2 separate regions of the Homo sapiens genome follow, and region 2 is linked to region 1. The links come from fine-mapping of genetic effects on gene expression. Tissue or cell type: prefrontal cortex. Region 1 holds a variant in brackets; the other region holds the start of a gene. All regions are shown on one strand. Distances are from middle to middle.

The links. PIP is the estimated chance that this variant, and not a neighbour inherited with it, causes the effect. A credible set is the group of variants that fine-mapping cannot tell apart.
Region 2: it holds the start of LINC03071, and the variant in region 1 is the best candidate, but not a certain one, in a credible set for the expression of LINC03071 in prefrontal cortex (CommonMind, PIP 0.79).

Annotation. Positions count from the first base shown.
Region 1 is chr8:74,460,218-74,468,561 of GRCh38, reverse strand. It overlaps a transcript of GDAP1 not described here. Among named protein-coding and RNA genes, the nearest start is that of MIR5681A, 84 kb to the left of the region's middle. The variant TG/G (reference allele first, on the strand shown) is at 5,101.
Region 2 is chr8:74,628,764-74,637,107 of GRCh38, reverse strand. It overlaps LINC03071 (long intergenic non-protein coding RNA 3071), which reads left to right and starts at 3,776. Exons shown (of 7, transcript NR_183468.1): 1 at 3,776-3,873; 2 at 4,606-4,658; 3 at 8,226-8,307. The region is part of intron 2 of MIR2052HG (MIR2052 host gene); the gene reads right to left.

The sequences.
Region 1 (8,344 bases):
AACCTATATATGTGTGTGTGTATATATACACATTCATGTGTGTGTGTGTGTGTGTGTGTGTGTGTGTGTGTGTGTGTGTGTGTATGGGGTCATTTACATATATATGTAAATAATAAATGTAGCAAGAAATTTATTAAATCAATGGAATAATGCACCTTTAAGGGGCACAGATGGACAGGTCTTGAAGAGAAAGTCTCCAAATCACAAAGATGTTTTTATTATTTTTACTTAATGTATATATGAAATACAACAATTAAAAATACTAATAGTTTTTTATAGATAAGCAGATTCCAAAGTATATGGAAAAATATACATATAGGTGAGAAACCACTGAAAAAGAAGAGTAATGAAGATGAATTAGCCCAACAAATACTGAAACATATTAAAACACCACCGTAATTTAAAGAGTATGGTGCTTGTATGTAAATAACAGACCAAAAAAAAATAGAACAGTAAGTCCACAGGTAGGCCCAAATAATTATGTAATTTTAATTTATGACAAAACATTATCACAAACCAGTGGTAAAAAGATAAACTATTCAACAGATGATTTTAAGACAACTAGGTATGCATCTGAAAAAAAAAATCAGGTTATATCAATATCTCAAATCATGTTCTAAGAAAATTGTCCAAGAGATGAAATAATTAAATATAAAAAAATGAAACTCTCAAAGTAACAGAAGAAAACATAGAAAAATTATTTTACGGTATGTGTGTGTATAGGGCCTAAGAACAACTCAGAATGCCAGAGATCATAAAAGCAAATACTGGTGAATGTAAATGATCAGTCCAGCCCCCGGGTTCTACAGTTCCTTGACCTCCCCTCCTCCCACTATCTTGTTTAACACCCTGCTTTGGCTATTCACTCCATAGGTACCTCCACCTTGTAATTTCCAATAATTACAACCTCTGTATAATCTCAATTCCAAGAACCTACTCTCTGTGCTGCAGTGAACCTAGCAGCTTTATTGTAACCATCCTTGGAACCCTCCAGGCCCTACTGATTGCACTGCCTGTTCATTGACTCTTGCCTCTCATATCTTCACTGAACTTACCCACTTAAAATCTAGGATCAATCATTATACTCTCTCTCTCAAATAAGCCCTCAAACCCCTTGCCCTCTCTTTCTTCATCACACTTTGAACTTATGTCACAGTGGTTAAATCTAGCTGCTTATCTGTTCCACACTTGAACCAGGGAAGCTGAACCTGGCTCAGAAACCATTTAACCATGCTAAGTGTTCTCACTTTAATTCATGACTCATGATCACTAAGCTCCAGTAAGCAATGATGCTCGCCAATGATATGATTAACCTATTCCATTTGATCTTCCACTCTCTAAGACAGCTATTCTATCCCTTCTCCTTTCTCCTCAAACTTCCAACTCCTTCTCTACTGCTGTCCCTCTCAGCTGATGGCTTTGCTTCTATTTCACTGAGAAGACAGAAACAATAAAAAGAGAACTTTGATAATCTTCATATATAAATACCTACCTTCATTAATCCCCATATCCTCTACTCTTTTCCCTATTCCTATGTATAAGCTGTCTGTGTTCCTAATGCCAGCCCTTAACTAGGGCTATGGATTAGAGTCCGTGATTCCTTATTGAGTAATTCTTCCCTTTCAGCAGCAGCATCTATTCCCCTCTATCTGAGTCTCTCCCAGCAGTGCATAAATCTGCTGTCATTTGTCTTGAATATCTCCTCTCTATAGCCAACTCCCTTGGAGATGTCACTCAGTCTCCTGCCTGCAAATACATAGTGATGATTCACAAATGTACGTATCTCTAGATCAGAACTCTCACCTGCACACCAGACCCTGGCTTCCTATTTAACGTTTTTACTTGGATATCTAATCAGCGCCTTCAAATTTAACATGTAAAAACTGTTCCTATTTTTCCCCTACCCCTATTAAAATTGTTAGTCTATCCTTCCAGTTATCAAACCAATAAATTCAGAGTTATCCTTGATCTGTCCTCCACAACTGTAATCCAATCTATCAGCGAATCTTGCAAGCTCTATCTTCAACATATCTATGCAGCACTCCTTCTCATTGCCCAACTATTACCACTCCAGTCTAGGCCACCATTAGCTCTCACCATTGGCTCTCAATTACTGTGGTAGCCTGTTAACTGATCTTCACACATCTACCTTCGTCCTCTTCAGTTTTTTTCTCCACAAAGCCAAAGTAAATCTGTTAAAATCTAACTCAAATCAGATCACGTTTCCCTAAAACCCTCCAAAGCTATGGTTCCCAAACTGTGTTCCAAGGAACCCTGGGGCCCTGCAGTGAACTCCCTGGGGTGCTTTGAGATGTCTTAAATTTTTCAGAGAGAAATCCAGAGATACTCAATATCCTTTGGATACAAGGTGAGCTAGATCACACTACATTTTTTTATGAAGTCATATCTTTGCAAAGCATATTTTAAGCATGATTTAAGCATATTTTGCTCTGATAAAAAGCACGTCCCTCTGAAAAGAAACAATGTGGAACAGAAAATGAGTATGGCAGTATCCAATCTGATTCCAAAGTTTGAGAGTCTGCGCTATAAGCAAGGGATGCAGACATCATATTAATAAATGTGATTAGTTAAGAATGAAATTAAAATGTTCTTCAATTTATGTGTTTTTTAAAAATAGCTAATAAGTTGTTAGGACAAATAAATACCAAGTTCTCTGCTCATAACTATTTAATAAATAACACTGCTAGGTCTCTCTTTTGGCCTAGAAGTATGATGAAAAATTCCAGATTAAGTGGCCCTAAATTGATTAAAAAAAAAAAAAAACTTGGTGTGATTAAAGAACTGAAAATTATCAGTGTGCCTGAAGCAGGGAAGAGTGACTGACAAGCAGTTTGGAGAGGGAGCCAGGGCCAGATCTTGCAGAACAGCAGAGCATCAGAAGCCATAGTGGGGAATTTTAATGCTATGCTAAGAGCAATTGGAGGCTTGAGGTTATTTTAAGCAGATGAGTAATTTGACCAGACTTACAATTTTAAATGATCAAGCTGCTCGATGGAGACTGTGTTGGGGAAAGATGAGAAGGAGAAGTGGAGAACCTATCAGGCTATCATCTAGTCCAGAGAACTTGGTGGCTTGAACTCTGTGGGGCAGTGGAGGTGGAAGGGAAGGGAGACCAGCAGTACTTTGTAGGTAAAATTTATAAGGCTTGGCGAGAGATTGCATGAAAGGGGTAAGGGAAGCAGGTGTATCAAGAATGACTCCTAAACTTCTGGCTTGAGCAAGTGGGTGCGCCTACCTGAAATAAAGATAGGGAGGAACTAGTTTCAGGCAGAATAGCACGGCTTAGGTTTATTTTTTTTTATTTTTATTTATTTATTTTTGGAGAGGAGTCTCGCTCTGTCACCCAGGCTGGAGTGCAAGTGGTGCTATCTCAGCTCACTGCAACCTCCGTCTCCCGGGTTTAAGCAATTCTCCTGCCTCAGCCTCCCAAGTAACTGGGACTACAGGAGCACGCTACCACGCCCAGCTAACTTGTTGTATTTTAGTAGAGGTGGGCTTTCACCATGTTGCCCAGGCTGGTCTCGAACTCCTGAGCTCAAGCAATCTACCCGCCTTGGCCTCCCAAAGTGCTAGGATTACAGGCATGAGCCACCATGCCTGGCCGACAGCTTAAGTTTAGATGTTTTAAATTTAAGATACTTATTTACAATTAAATTTAAAAGGTGATATCTTAAATTGTAAGTATCTTGGAAGATACTTACAATTTAAGATGACAGTAGGCAGGTATTTAGGTTTGAATATGAAATTAATATCCCTTTCCCTAAATATGGCATGACTGTCCATTCCCCCTCAGTCTTTGTCTGACGGAGTTATTCTTATCTCTAGCAATACTCTTAGCATATACAATCACATCCAGGCCCAACTCAAAGGCATCCTGCCAAGACAGCATATTAGGGGCTCCATCTGGAAGTGTGCACAAAATGTAGTATGCTGTTATAAAACCAGCATTCAGGGTGTCTAGATGGACGCAGGGACAACCATATGTTTTTCAGTTTCCACACTATTCCTTGAAAACAAACTTGCTTCATTGGGCTTTTGCCAGCCAGCCTTCCTAGCCCCTTCCAATTGCTCCTCCCTTAGGGTTGCACATTGTTCTTATTTCAATTGCTGTTGCTTAGGGTCTTACAGAAAACCAAGCAAACCACTAAAATATGACCCTGTTCCCCACTGACTTTGAATTTTACTGCAGCCTGGATCCCTCTGCTATAATGCTACAACTTATCAAGTCACCATGAATTGAAGTAGCTTAAATTAACCCGGAATTTGACACTCCCCTATTGGCACTGTATTTTGGACTGTCTGCCAACTATGAGTGCCAGTTTTTTCTACTTTGACTAATCATTCCACACTTTGGGGTTCTAGCATGCCTCACCCAAACCTGTTTTGTTGATAAAAGTCTCCATGTCTTTTCTCTTTCCTTCTGGAAACCCAGATTTGTCCTTTAAAATCCCACTCAGGCACCAGCAGCACCTTCATTTATTCTCTCTTGGGATGGTATTGTTAAACATATTAGAACTAAATATTTCCTCCACATTTCCTTTAGTTGTTTCATAGCATTTCTCTTGATATAGCAGGTACATACGTATTTATGGATTTTTTCCCTTTATGCTAGATATTTCAGTAATTTGGCCTCTACTAAATAAATCCCGCCATCATGTAGTCATTTGTATTGATTTGTGCTTATATACAGCCAACTCTATTTGCATAAATGACTACAATACACAGAAGTTTTGATTACTATTACAATTACTGAATTGCTTTCTTGTAATTGTGGTAGTAACCATTTTAAGGTTGATATTCCAATTTCTACATATGTTTAGTTTCTCTACCTATGTCTTACTTATTTCTATTAAATTAGACAGTTTCTCTCCAAAGCTACATATGTCTTACACTTATTTCTATTAAATTAGATGTGTGCTTATTAGACAGTTTAATAAAGCAGAGGAACAACCTCTGCTTTATTAAAACTTTCCATAGCAGAATGCACTTTCCTGCAGCAAGAATCCTTTGATCCACTTTGGACACATTCCAGCATATTGTGTAGCACCTCTGTTAAAATACTATTTTTGTTTTTTTTTT[TG/G]AGACAGGGTCTCGCTCTGTCACCCAAGCTGGAGTGCAGTGGTGTAATCATAGCTCACCGCAGCCTAGAACTCCCGGGCTCAAGCAGCAATCCTCATATATCACCCTTCTGAGTAGCTGGGACCACAAGTGCACAATACCACATCCCGCTAATTTATTTTTTTATTTTTTTAATACATATGGGGTCTCCCTATGTTCCTAAGGCTGGTCTCAAATTCCTAGGCTCAAGCAATCCTTCTACCATGGCCTCCCAAAGTGCTGGGATTATAGGCATAAGCCACCACACCTATCCTAAAATATTCTTGAAGTCATGCTTACTGTGCTACATCAATTTGTTTCAGCCCACAACTGAGGATCAATCTTAGAAATGTTATTTACTCATTTGCCGTAACTTATTGCCTTAATTACATATCACTTGCAATGTCATCCACCCTAAAGCTAAGCTTTCATGTACTGTCTGGTTCTTAGTTTATCAGAACACATTAATATCTATAAACTTTTCCCTTTGCACTTGATCTTTTAATAATTTGATCTCTTCTGAATGAAACAATTCATCAGGTTTTGTATTTGTATTGATTTCAACTTACGTCCTTGTCACTTCATCACTCAAATGCTTTCTAATCTACTAGATTCTTAAAGGCTTGTTTAAATGCTGGCATATCTTTTGAAATCATTCAAGTATAAAAAAAATTCTAGGATTCTCATTCCCAATTTTTGTTTTACCCTCTTCTTAGTGGTTTCTGTGTCAAACAGAAGCAAGAAGGATTAAGTTCCTTAAATTATTCCTAATTTCTATTCATTTTTCTAAAGAATATGTTAGTAACTCCTACAGGTCTCAATGTCTTGAAGTATTGACAGTTGATCATTAATGTCTATTTGGTAGGTACCATTTCTTCCCTACAGTGTATTTTTATAAAATTGCTTGCTTCTGCCCAATAGTCTCTAACTTACCATCAGCTGGAATGAACGATTTTTACCCTGTTCAACTCTACATGTCCCAAGGCACTAAGGAAAATAGGCTCTTCAAATGAAAACAGCTCAGACAATATTTGTTGAATTAAGTCATTAGATGTATTGAAGGAAATGCTCACAGGCCCAAGTCTCTTAAATTAATGCGAATAGCTCTTCTGTGGTAGCTCTCTGGTCCCTAAATTGATCTATTTTCTTAGTTTTCTATTATAGCTCCACTTAGAACACACAATCAATAAAAAATAAGTAGCCCAGCCCAGCCAGGAAGTACTTGACAAAAAATTAACTCTAGGCAAACAGAACTCAAGGAGTCACTATATATAGTTAAAATCACCTAGCCATATTCTTAACTCTTTTAAATCTTTATGTGTTAAAATAATAAAGTTTGTTTAGATACCATCTAACTGAAAGTTTGTTTTTATAAAATTCCATCTCTTAGTTCCATCTTTTTAAAAAAATTATTCAAGTTTTGATGTTTATTCTAAGACTCAGTGATACTATGATTTCATATACTTTTTATTGTTCATTTGCTGGAATAAAGAGAGGAAAATTTTATTCCTTAGGATGAAATGCTTTCTGCTGGAACAGAATTGTTTTTCTCATTCAAATCTTTCAGTGCTTTATGAGATTTAATGGCAATAAAATAGCTGCACCTGCATTTTTGTAGGAATGAAAAATACAAGTGAAACTGAACTGAGTTTGACCCATGGGGGTCAAACAGGAAAAATTCATTTGACACCATTAGCTTTGGGGTCCCATGTGAGCATGTAAAACACATTGTACTTCCCTGTCTGAGAGCATAATCAGAATCTATCCATACAATGCCAAACATGTGGAACATGAGCAACCCAATCAATTAGTCACCTAACATTTAGTCTGGATGATGCCAAACATCTGGATACTTGGAAATATCCAAATGAATGGGTGAACTTTTCACTTTTCTTCCGAATTTTTTTGGCAGCATATGAACACAGCCAAATGTGGGCACTTTGAATTGTGTTGTTATTTTTAGGCAACAGGTTCCAAAATCTCTTAAAAGACCTAGCTCCTCAATAGCCAAAGAAAATCTATTTACAATGCAGTCTTTCATGATTAATTTTGATAAAGAATTTATGTGTTAAAACTTACAATGGCAAAAATCAGGGTCATTAAATAATATGTATGTTTATTTAATAGGCTTTAGAGAGCAGAGCATTAATGTTCTGCTTTCCCGGGAAAGTATCTATATTAGGATAATCTGCTTAAGCTTATTATGTACCCCATTTTTAACTCAGCATGCTCCTGTGCCTATCCTCTAATCCTTTCCTTGCTGTCTCAGAGGTTTTTACAAGAGAAATGTGGGACAGATTTATGGCTAAGAGCAGAAAAATGAAGAGGGTAAGGGTGCAACGCCCAAAGGCCAAAGTGGGACAAAGCATTGGCAGTGGCCTCAGATGCAGACTGACATCCAAGTGCTGGCAGAAGATGTTCTGTAGGGAAAGCCCAAGAGGATAGAGAATACCCTCTCCCAATACAAGGACAAAGCCTTCAGGAATGTAGACCAACTCCAAGAAAGTGGGAAGAGAAAGCAAAAAGCCCAGGGTCTGTGACTGAACATTTTAACACTGCTATTCTAATTCTCTTCCTTTTTGTCTTCTCTTCTCCTCTTTCTCCTCCACCTGTTTATCTTCCTTCTCCTCCTCTCTCTCATTCTCTCTCTCTTTCTCTGTATATTCATGTCCCCAAACATAACAGGTCAACTCCACAAATAGAACCTTTTCTTAGGACCCTACCACTCTTCATAACCACCATTCCATAGCTCATTTCTTCCTGGATTAACTCCTCAGGCCCCTGCAGGAACTTCATTGCCTATCCACTGGGCCCTCCTTTACTCCCTGCAGGCCAGTTTCTGTTCCTGCTGTTCAGTATTAGATTTTCCATTAAGCTAAGGAAGCTTAAGCTTCAGGGGCCCTCCCATAAAGGAGTCTACTAGCTGAGGCCCTGGAAGTGGCCCTGGCAATGTGTTCACATAGACATATGTTTTAGTAAAATTGGCGACATGACATGAAGTTGCAGGGTCAGAAGTTGTATTGTAATAGAGCAACTGACACCAGAATTGTGTTGAAATGGAGGAGAATCAAGATTTGGAAGGTTCAGAGCCAGAAACTAATCAGTAGAAAGTTACAAATGGAACATTCCCTTCTCATTGATGCTTAGTCAAAATAAATTTCTCCTTTATCAACAAATGCTTGATCAACATGACACATACAATTTAAGGAACATTATGTATTTCTTC
Region 2 (8,344 bases), 170 kb before region 1:
AATGAATCCTTTCTTCCTTTCTATTCTCAATGAAATATGTGTATCACTGTATTCAGATTGCCTTATATTTGCTTTTGATGTGCCTAATGACCCCATTATATTATGAGTTCTTTATTAAAGATAATCCCAAAGAGCCCTGCCACCCAAAGTGTGGTCCCTCTACCAACATAGCTGTGAGCATATTAGAAATGCAGACCTTCAGGTCCCAACCCAGACTTCAGAATCTGCATCATAATATACCTCCAGTTCATTTTTATCACAATAAATTCTGAAAAGTGGTGCCATAGAGTATCTAGCATGTTAACACATAAAAGGTATTTTGTATAGGCTTGCTTGATGGATGGAAAGGGCATGAAAAATCAGGGAGAGGCATTTAATGTGCTGCTCTCAGTGTGCCAATGTGGTCTGGGAATTTATCTCAGGGTATACGATAGGTAGCATGGACAATATATTAAATTTATGGACCACAAAACACCACTAAGAGCCATAAAATGGTGAAAGACACTGATGAAAACCCAGAGTTTTTGGCAGAGAATATCATAAAGTATTCTGAAATTTGAAGATCTTTTTAAAAATCACTCTAACTTGACCTATCTTGGATTCGCGCTTTGAGCTATTACACTGCATTCAAATATTTGTTTTCATTCCTGCATATTTTCTTCTCCCTCTCCTTCCTGCATAAATTTATATATGGAACTTAGTTAACTCAGACTGCCAGCTGGTAAAACTGTTTTCCGAGAAAAAATGTAAAAGCATCCTAAATTCAAGGACAAAAATTTGCAGAATTGGTGGATTATTGGAGCACCACACAGTGATAAATACATTAAAGGCTATCATCCCAGCAGGACTTGGAACAAGGTAAAGTCTACAGAAAGGTAAGTAAAGAACAGGTCAACTTCTGAACCTTCTGGATCCCCCTCTAGAAGAAACAAAATGAAATTACTCCAATTATTTTCGGACACTGAGGCCAAGCGTGGCTTACTAAGTTCTAAAATGGTGTCTCACCCCTCATGGAAAGAAAAAAGAACTGAAATAGAGGCAACTGAGGACATCTTGGAGGACAAGACATGAGCCAGGAAGGGGGCCTGACACAGAAACAGAGATAAGGAAAGAAATGATGAGTTTGTTTGCTCTTTCTGTGAAAGTTTTAATTCCCACATTTCCATTACTTAATATGTCATTATTTTACTTTTCAGAAATTGGCAAACCAAAAGCATTCCACCATTTATTTTAAAACTTGTAGTCAACACACATCAGACTTTTATATTGCCTCAAATAAAAATTCTCTAAAGAATCAAATCTAAAGCTGTGCTATAAATTTCCCTGGGGAAGTTAATCCTAAAGTTCTTAGACATCAATATATGCTCCTGACCAAAGGTTGGATTTCAGAGGTCATGATGACATAGATTGATAAAATCCTGCTGCGTAATCCAGCCACGAATTACGTGTTGACATTGATAAGCAACATTTTTCATTGCCTATTAAATAAAGGTCAAATTCTTCAGCCTGGCATTAAAGATGACCCCAGTTTGAATTTCGAACTTTATTTCCCTCGACTCTAGCCAAGTGGAACAAATTGTGTTCTGTGCATGTCCTTTAATTTATTGTCTTTATGGTTTTGCTTACAGCTCCTTTCACTTGTAATTCTCTTTCTTTCTATATCTGTGGATCCCAAACTTATCCAGTAATTAAGGACCAGTGCAAATGACATCTCCATTGGGCCTCCAAATACCCAAAGAGCTGAAAATGTACTCTTTCAAATATCTCCTAGACACCTGACAAACTTCATCTCATGTTATATTTATTTATGTATGTTTAATGCAATTCACTAGAGGTAAACCTTCCTGACGGTAAAAAAAAAAAAAAATCTGTTTTTGTGCTTTCTGTACCTAATATAGTGATTTGCACATAATAGGTACCCATAAATATTTCATAATTCTACAATTGTGGAACTGTTATAAGTATTCAGTCAAATGAGACCATAATACCCTTTTGGTATGCTGTTCTCCCTTTTTCTCACATTTCCATTCACCCCCAACCCCCCAAATTTCTCTAAAATCCTAATAAGTCATTTTCACTGTAACTTACCTTGTTCTTCATGGAATTATTAGATAAAAATTAGACTAATGAATATACATTTTCCTTCTTTTGAATAAAAATAAGCCATATTCCTGACATAATGTCCATATCTGACATTCAATAAATAATTGAGGAAAGAGTGGATCAATTAATCAATCAATCAATTGCCCTGCCAAAATCTCAGTGAATCTAGCATGACTAGCATAAAGCTATGGACCCCTCAGATTTCGTTGTCCGTTTCTGTCTTGCGATACCTATGAAGTAGTGGTAGATGTCTCCTGATTGTATACAGTGGTCTTATAAATTGAATAAGAGCAGTGTATTAACAGATTACATGATGTTGCTTCCTTAAAGATAATGTCTTTACTCACTCATGGTAACAAAAGTGTAATTTTGACTATATTAAGCCATATAAGTCCCCAAGGGGACTCATCCCAAGATTAAGCACTGAGTAAATATTACAATAATTGCTGCTGCTACTTGAAAACGATAGTAAAACTCAAAAAAAAATTTAAGGTGAAAATGTATTAAGAATGTATTAAGAAATTATTTTGCAAGAGTTCTAAATTATGACAGCTTATAAGTAAAGATACAGGTGACGGGTTATAATCTGTCAAATACTACATGATGTCAGCAACAAGTTTCTCCTGCCTTTGGCCCGACTATTTGGGCATAGGTTGTCTATGTAAACCTCTGCCTTGTTGTCTCTGCCTCAATTAATAGCTTACTAATACACTGGTAATCTGGTCTTTCTAATTCTGGGAACTGGCAAGTCTTTTCAATCCCTTTCTCCAACCTAAACTGAAATCTCTTTCCTGAATGCCTGTTCTAAGTATTGCTAGTTCCTGAATTCTCCAATAGCATGCCCTCCCTACATTTCAGGAAGCCTAAATCTGAAGAGCAAGCATGCTTTCTACAAGTGTTAGAATAGATAGTAAAATGAGAATCAAGCCTCTCCACCTTACTGAAATAACTTAATGTCCTCCTCCTCCTCCATTAGGCTCCCAGATATTTGAGGAAAGAAACTATTAATTTAACTTTCATTCTCCCTCTTAAAAGAGGCTCGGTACATCTAATGTGCCCAGTGATTGTTGAATAAGCCAATGAAAGACTGCATTAACCAACTTAGAAATGTACAAACCATTCTTAAGTTTACAGAGCATTATATCTCCATTATGTTCTTCATCCTTGTAGTAGTCAAAGGCTCATAGTTACATCTCTGAATGTCTTTATAACCAGCCAATTGCATACCAATACATCTATCAGGACAATCAACAATATAAGCCTAGAACTAAGTTACTATCTTTAGCGTACTCAGCATCAATGCTGAGTGCAGCCCCAATGAACAGTACACATGCAAACAAATACCTAAACAGATGTAACAGAACTAGTAGTACATTGAGCCTAGGAAACGCATAACAAGTACAACTCATGCAAGTGACATGACAATGCTAGAAATCAATCTCTGCCGTCATTTAGCAAGGTAAGATGGCATTCTGAGGAGGAGCCTTGTGATTAGGGAATGGGAATAAGCCAGAACAACAGCAACAACAAAAGTAGCTTGTGAGTACCTGGTACCAGAGTGCTGACTTTTTCTTACTTGTGCCTGACAAGTCATAATGCCTAAGAACTACCACCAGGGGTGTCACAATGGAGAGTAACGTACACTAGAAGCACCTAATGAGGAATTAAGAGTGGGATGTGTGCTGGAAAGGGTTCACACATATAATCCCAGCACTTTGGGAGGCTGAGGTAGGAAGATCGCTGGAACCCAGGAGTTCAAGACCATCCTGGGTAATATGAAGAGACCCTGTCTCTACAAAAAAACAAAAAAGAAAACCATTAGCCAGGGGTGGTGGCACATGCCTGTGGTCCCAGCTACTCAGAAAACTGAGGTGGGAGGACTGCTTGAGCTTGGGAGGTTGAGGCTGCAGTGAGCCATGATCAAGCCACTGTACTACAGTCTGGGCAACAAAGCAAGACCCTGTCTCAAAACAAACAAACAAACAAACAAATAAAAGAGTAGGATATATCATATAGTCATGGGAGAGGAATTATCAAAGTTGAGTCCTGAAGGTTGAACCAGACTAGTGAGGAGTGGTGAGATGAGAGCCAGAAAACAGAGACAGCCTGGGAGTCATTGGCTATATCATAAAACAGAGACTATTATAAAAACAGTGAGGTAGGGGTCCGATCAACACGAGCTGATTATGCCAAGATAAGAAGTTTGTCTTCAGAGAAAAGAGCCATGTATAATATTTCTTCCAGTTCCCATGATAATTATCTCACCCAGGGAAATGGGGAAAGGCTAGCACTGGCAACCTAAATATTCAGAATTACATACAGAATATTGGTGAAGGATAACATTAAAGTCATACCAAATATATTTACATTTAGATGTTGTATGTGTTTTACTTTCAAATATGCAGCAAATTATAATTTTTAAGCCTGAAGTTTAAAATGCTTTTATTTCCAGAATTAATATAACTTTTTTCTCCCTAAGTAAGTTTTTTTTTCAATCCCTAGGTAAGATAACAGCACCTCAGAGAAGATTTGGAAAATAAATGAGCTGATGAGAGGTAAGTATAGCACTCAGGGAGAGACACGGGCCAAGCAGGCTCTCCCCTGAAAGAAACTGCGGGGCCACTATAGGATAATAAGCCCCAATCACAAACGCAGGCTCTGGTGGCCACACATCCTGCTGGTGGCACCCTGAGACCAAACTTGCTCCTCTGGATCTCCCTGGCGAGAGTCTTGGAGAAACCTGTGCAGTCATGCTGTGGTCCAGGAGAAGCCACTATCAATACGTCCTCCGACAGCCACAGTCAGCTCAAGGGGAGGGATGCCCAGATCATAAGGATCGCCTGCAAAGGAGCAATGAGTGGAAAAATGGCCTCATAGAGGTGTTGTGATGTCTAAGCTAGAGGGCTCTCATCCTCTTCAGCTTCTCTTGCTGAGTATGCTTGATATACTCCTAAGTAAAATAAGGAGGCTGCTATGGTCTAAATGTTTGTGTCCCTCCAAATTTATATGTTGAAACTGAACCCTTAATGCAATAGTGTTAAGAGGTGGGATCTTTGGGGAAATTATTAAATCATGAGGGCCTCATGAATGAGATTTGTGCCCATATAAAAGAAGGTGAAGGGAGCATGTTTGTCCTTTTCACCATGTGAAGACACAGCATTTGCCCCTTCTGCCATGTGAGGATGCAGCAAGTAGGCACCATCTCTGAAGCACAGCAAGTCCTCACCAGACACTGAATCTGCTGGTGCCTTGACCTTGGACTCCCCATCCTCCAAAAATACAGGAAATAAATTTCTGTCATTGATAAATTACCCAGTCTAAGGCATTTTTGTTATAGCAGCCCAAACTAAGACAGAGGGTTTTTGAGAAGTTATTACTACTGGTCCAAAATCTTTCTACCAATTCACAGAAACCATCACATCAACAGCTGTTGAAGTACCTTAAACAGGTAAATATATGATTAGGTAATTATATTAAACCTCTATGTCATAAAAGGTAGAAGAATCTTAAATGTTTAAGAATCAAAAAAGTAGAAATATGCCTCTCAATTTCAAGTCAAAAGAATAAAAAACAAATCAAGTAACTCTCAAAGCTTTCAGAAAAAAGGATAGAACTAATTATTCAAATACACCAAACATTGTTTTCTATTTATTCTTCTATACCAGAAACCATTGCTGCTATAACTAGCAATAATCTCTTAAGATTTGTTGTTGGAAAAGATGCAGATGTATATTTAATTTCCCTCCTACTCCACAGATAACCAAATGAGGAGTCTGGCTGTCACAGGGACTATCTAGCCCGCCAGGCCAAAAGGCCTGTGTTTATTGTTAGAGTGGCCTGAATGAGGTGGGCATAGACTCTGAGCAGTATACCTTACATGATAATTGCTCTATCCTCAAACTACTCTAATACGAAAAAGTTTCTTTTTTATTACCAACCATAACTCAGAGAAACCCTATCATCCCTAAAATCTTGGATATGTGGAAAATGGAGAACGATATTTGCCTTTAAGTACACATAATTACATTTAAGCATAGATGAGAGCACATGCCACTCAATAAATATATGAAGCTGGGCAAATTATTGAATCTCTGAGCTCTCGTTTCCTCATTTTTACAAAGAAGATAGCAAGTCAGTCTGAGGATCAAATGAAGTAGGCTACAGGAAACAACTTGCATAGTAGCTGAGGTGTCAGAGGCACTAAATGGTAGCTCCTTAACACTTTCCACTCTTCTTGTTGTGAATTGTTAATGTAGAGCAAACTAGAACAAATGGCTAAGGAGATGTAGTTGCTATGTTATGCCATCCGTAGCTCACTGCCAGGAATGTCCAGCCAGTGTTTTGTCCTTCAGTTTCCAGAGAACTTGTTTCTGAAGCTCAGTCGAATGTTTTTTGCTAGCTATCTATCCCTAGAGAGTTCCTTATCATCAAAGTTTTTTAAGCTGGATTGCCCTTTTTTCTTTTTTTTTTTTTTTTCAGAGAAATCTTTTTGCACTTTTGTCCTTTTTCTGAAGATTCTTTCCTCTTTCTGGAGTAAAAGGCTTGCCAAGATAGCCCTCTTAACCATTTCCTCTTGGCTCTTTACCTTCTCTGTGCTTGGACAGAAAAATGGACATTTGCAAATATTAGGACACCCTTCCAAGCCTGACTTGTCTCTTGCCCCAATATCCAGAAAGAGCAGCAGCCCACTGCCTGGGAGAGAAGAGGGAAACTTCATTTTCAGTCCATTGATTAAATATGTCAGATTTTCTCTCTTGGAAACAATGGGTAAGGAGGGGAGTATTCTTGGGAGTCTATTTTGAGCTGAACAAAAATAACTGTTTTGATTTAGGAAAAAAAATGTGTTTAGCATTATTATCAGATACAACCAGCACATTTTCACTTGTTTTTCATTCTGAACAGACCTGAACTTCCACTATGACATAAATTCATTGTCCTAGCTTTTGAACATGCCTTCGAACAACTCTTTTCTGTGCCTGTAATTATGTTTTCTCCTTCTTCAGTCAGAGAATTCCTAGTATATTTATCCATTCAACAAACATTTATTTGGAGAAAGCCTGGCTGGATGCATGGGTGAGGGAGTCATGAGGACATCAGAAGGTGGTGCTGAGTTGCAGCAGAGGAGAGTGGACTTTGCTTAGAGAGAAATAACAGTTGTGAGCACAGGGCTAAGGATGTTGCTGGGGAAACATCCCTATTCAAGCTTTGTCAAAGAGGAGTGACCATTGATATATTTATTATTCATCTCCCAGTCACTCTTGTGGTTGGCCAACGCTGTTTTGGTGCACCACTCAGATACCTTGTACTGGGCCAATGCACCACCCCCAGCTTCTGTGAGTGTTGGCTGCAAAAGGCTTCCAGTAGCTCCCCTTCTCCAAAGAATTGCCCTCAGCTGACAGGAGTAAGCTCTCTGAAAGTTAAGTACCTATGCTCTCAAGGAGAGCCCTGAAGCCTATGACTAACACTATACTGGAATGCAAAAGGCTGGCCCCTTGCTGTTTCCTCTTTTCATACCTTCCTTTTACTCTTCCATCCTCCTAGACCACTTCCAACACTCCCCCACCCTAGGCATCACCTACTGTAGAAAACCATCCTGAAAGTAATTATCTGCAACCTGGCTAAGTGCCCCTCTCTGCTTGTTTCAATCACTTTGAAAGTTCTAATGTCAAAAATACTTCCTGGCTCTTAACGTTTGGCTTCAATAAATATTTGCTGAGTCAGGGAATAAAGGAATGAGTAAACTGCTATGAAAGTGCTCATTTAATATATTTAACAGTTTACCGTGGCCTAACAGCATAGAGCCTCTGTCATCAAATAAGTTGCTTGCCAAAAACTTAAACTTGTTAAAAACGTTTATGTGATATTTTAATGAAAGAGTATGCTAGGCAGTAAATTAGTTTCATGAGCAAATCTGTGTGAAAGCAACCAACACACTGGCTGACATAAGAGGAACTCAAAAAGTCCTCGTTCAATAAAACAGTGAACTGGAGGGGGATTTTCCTTTAAAAAGCCTTCACAATTTTTTTCAAGTAAAATGCTCTCTCCCATCAGACTACTGGAAAACCATGGAGCTCCTGTCTATGCCATCAAACAAGATACCAATTTTTTTTTTCTTTTTCCAGCAATTTTCTGCTTCCTGGGCCACCACAGTCTTCTTTGCTGTTTTTGATTGCAACCATTTTCAGAGAAGAATCAACACCAAAGGTCAGACTTACACAATTTCATTGTCTCTTGAATTATA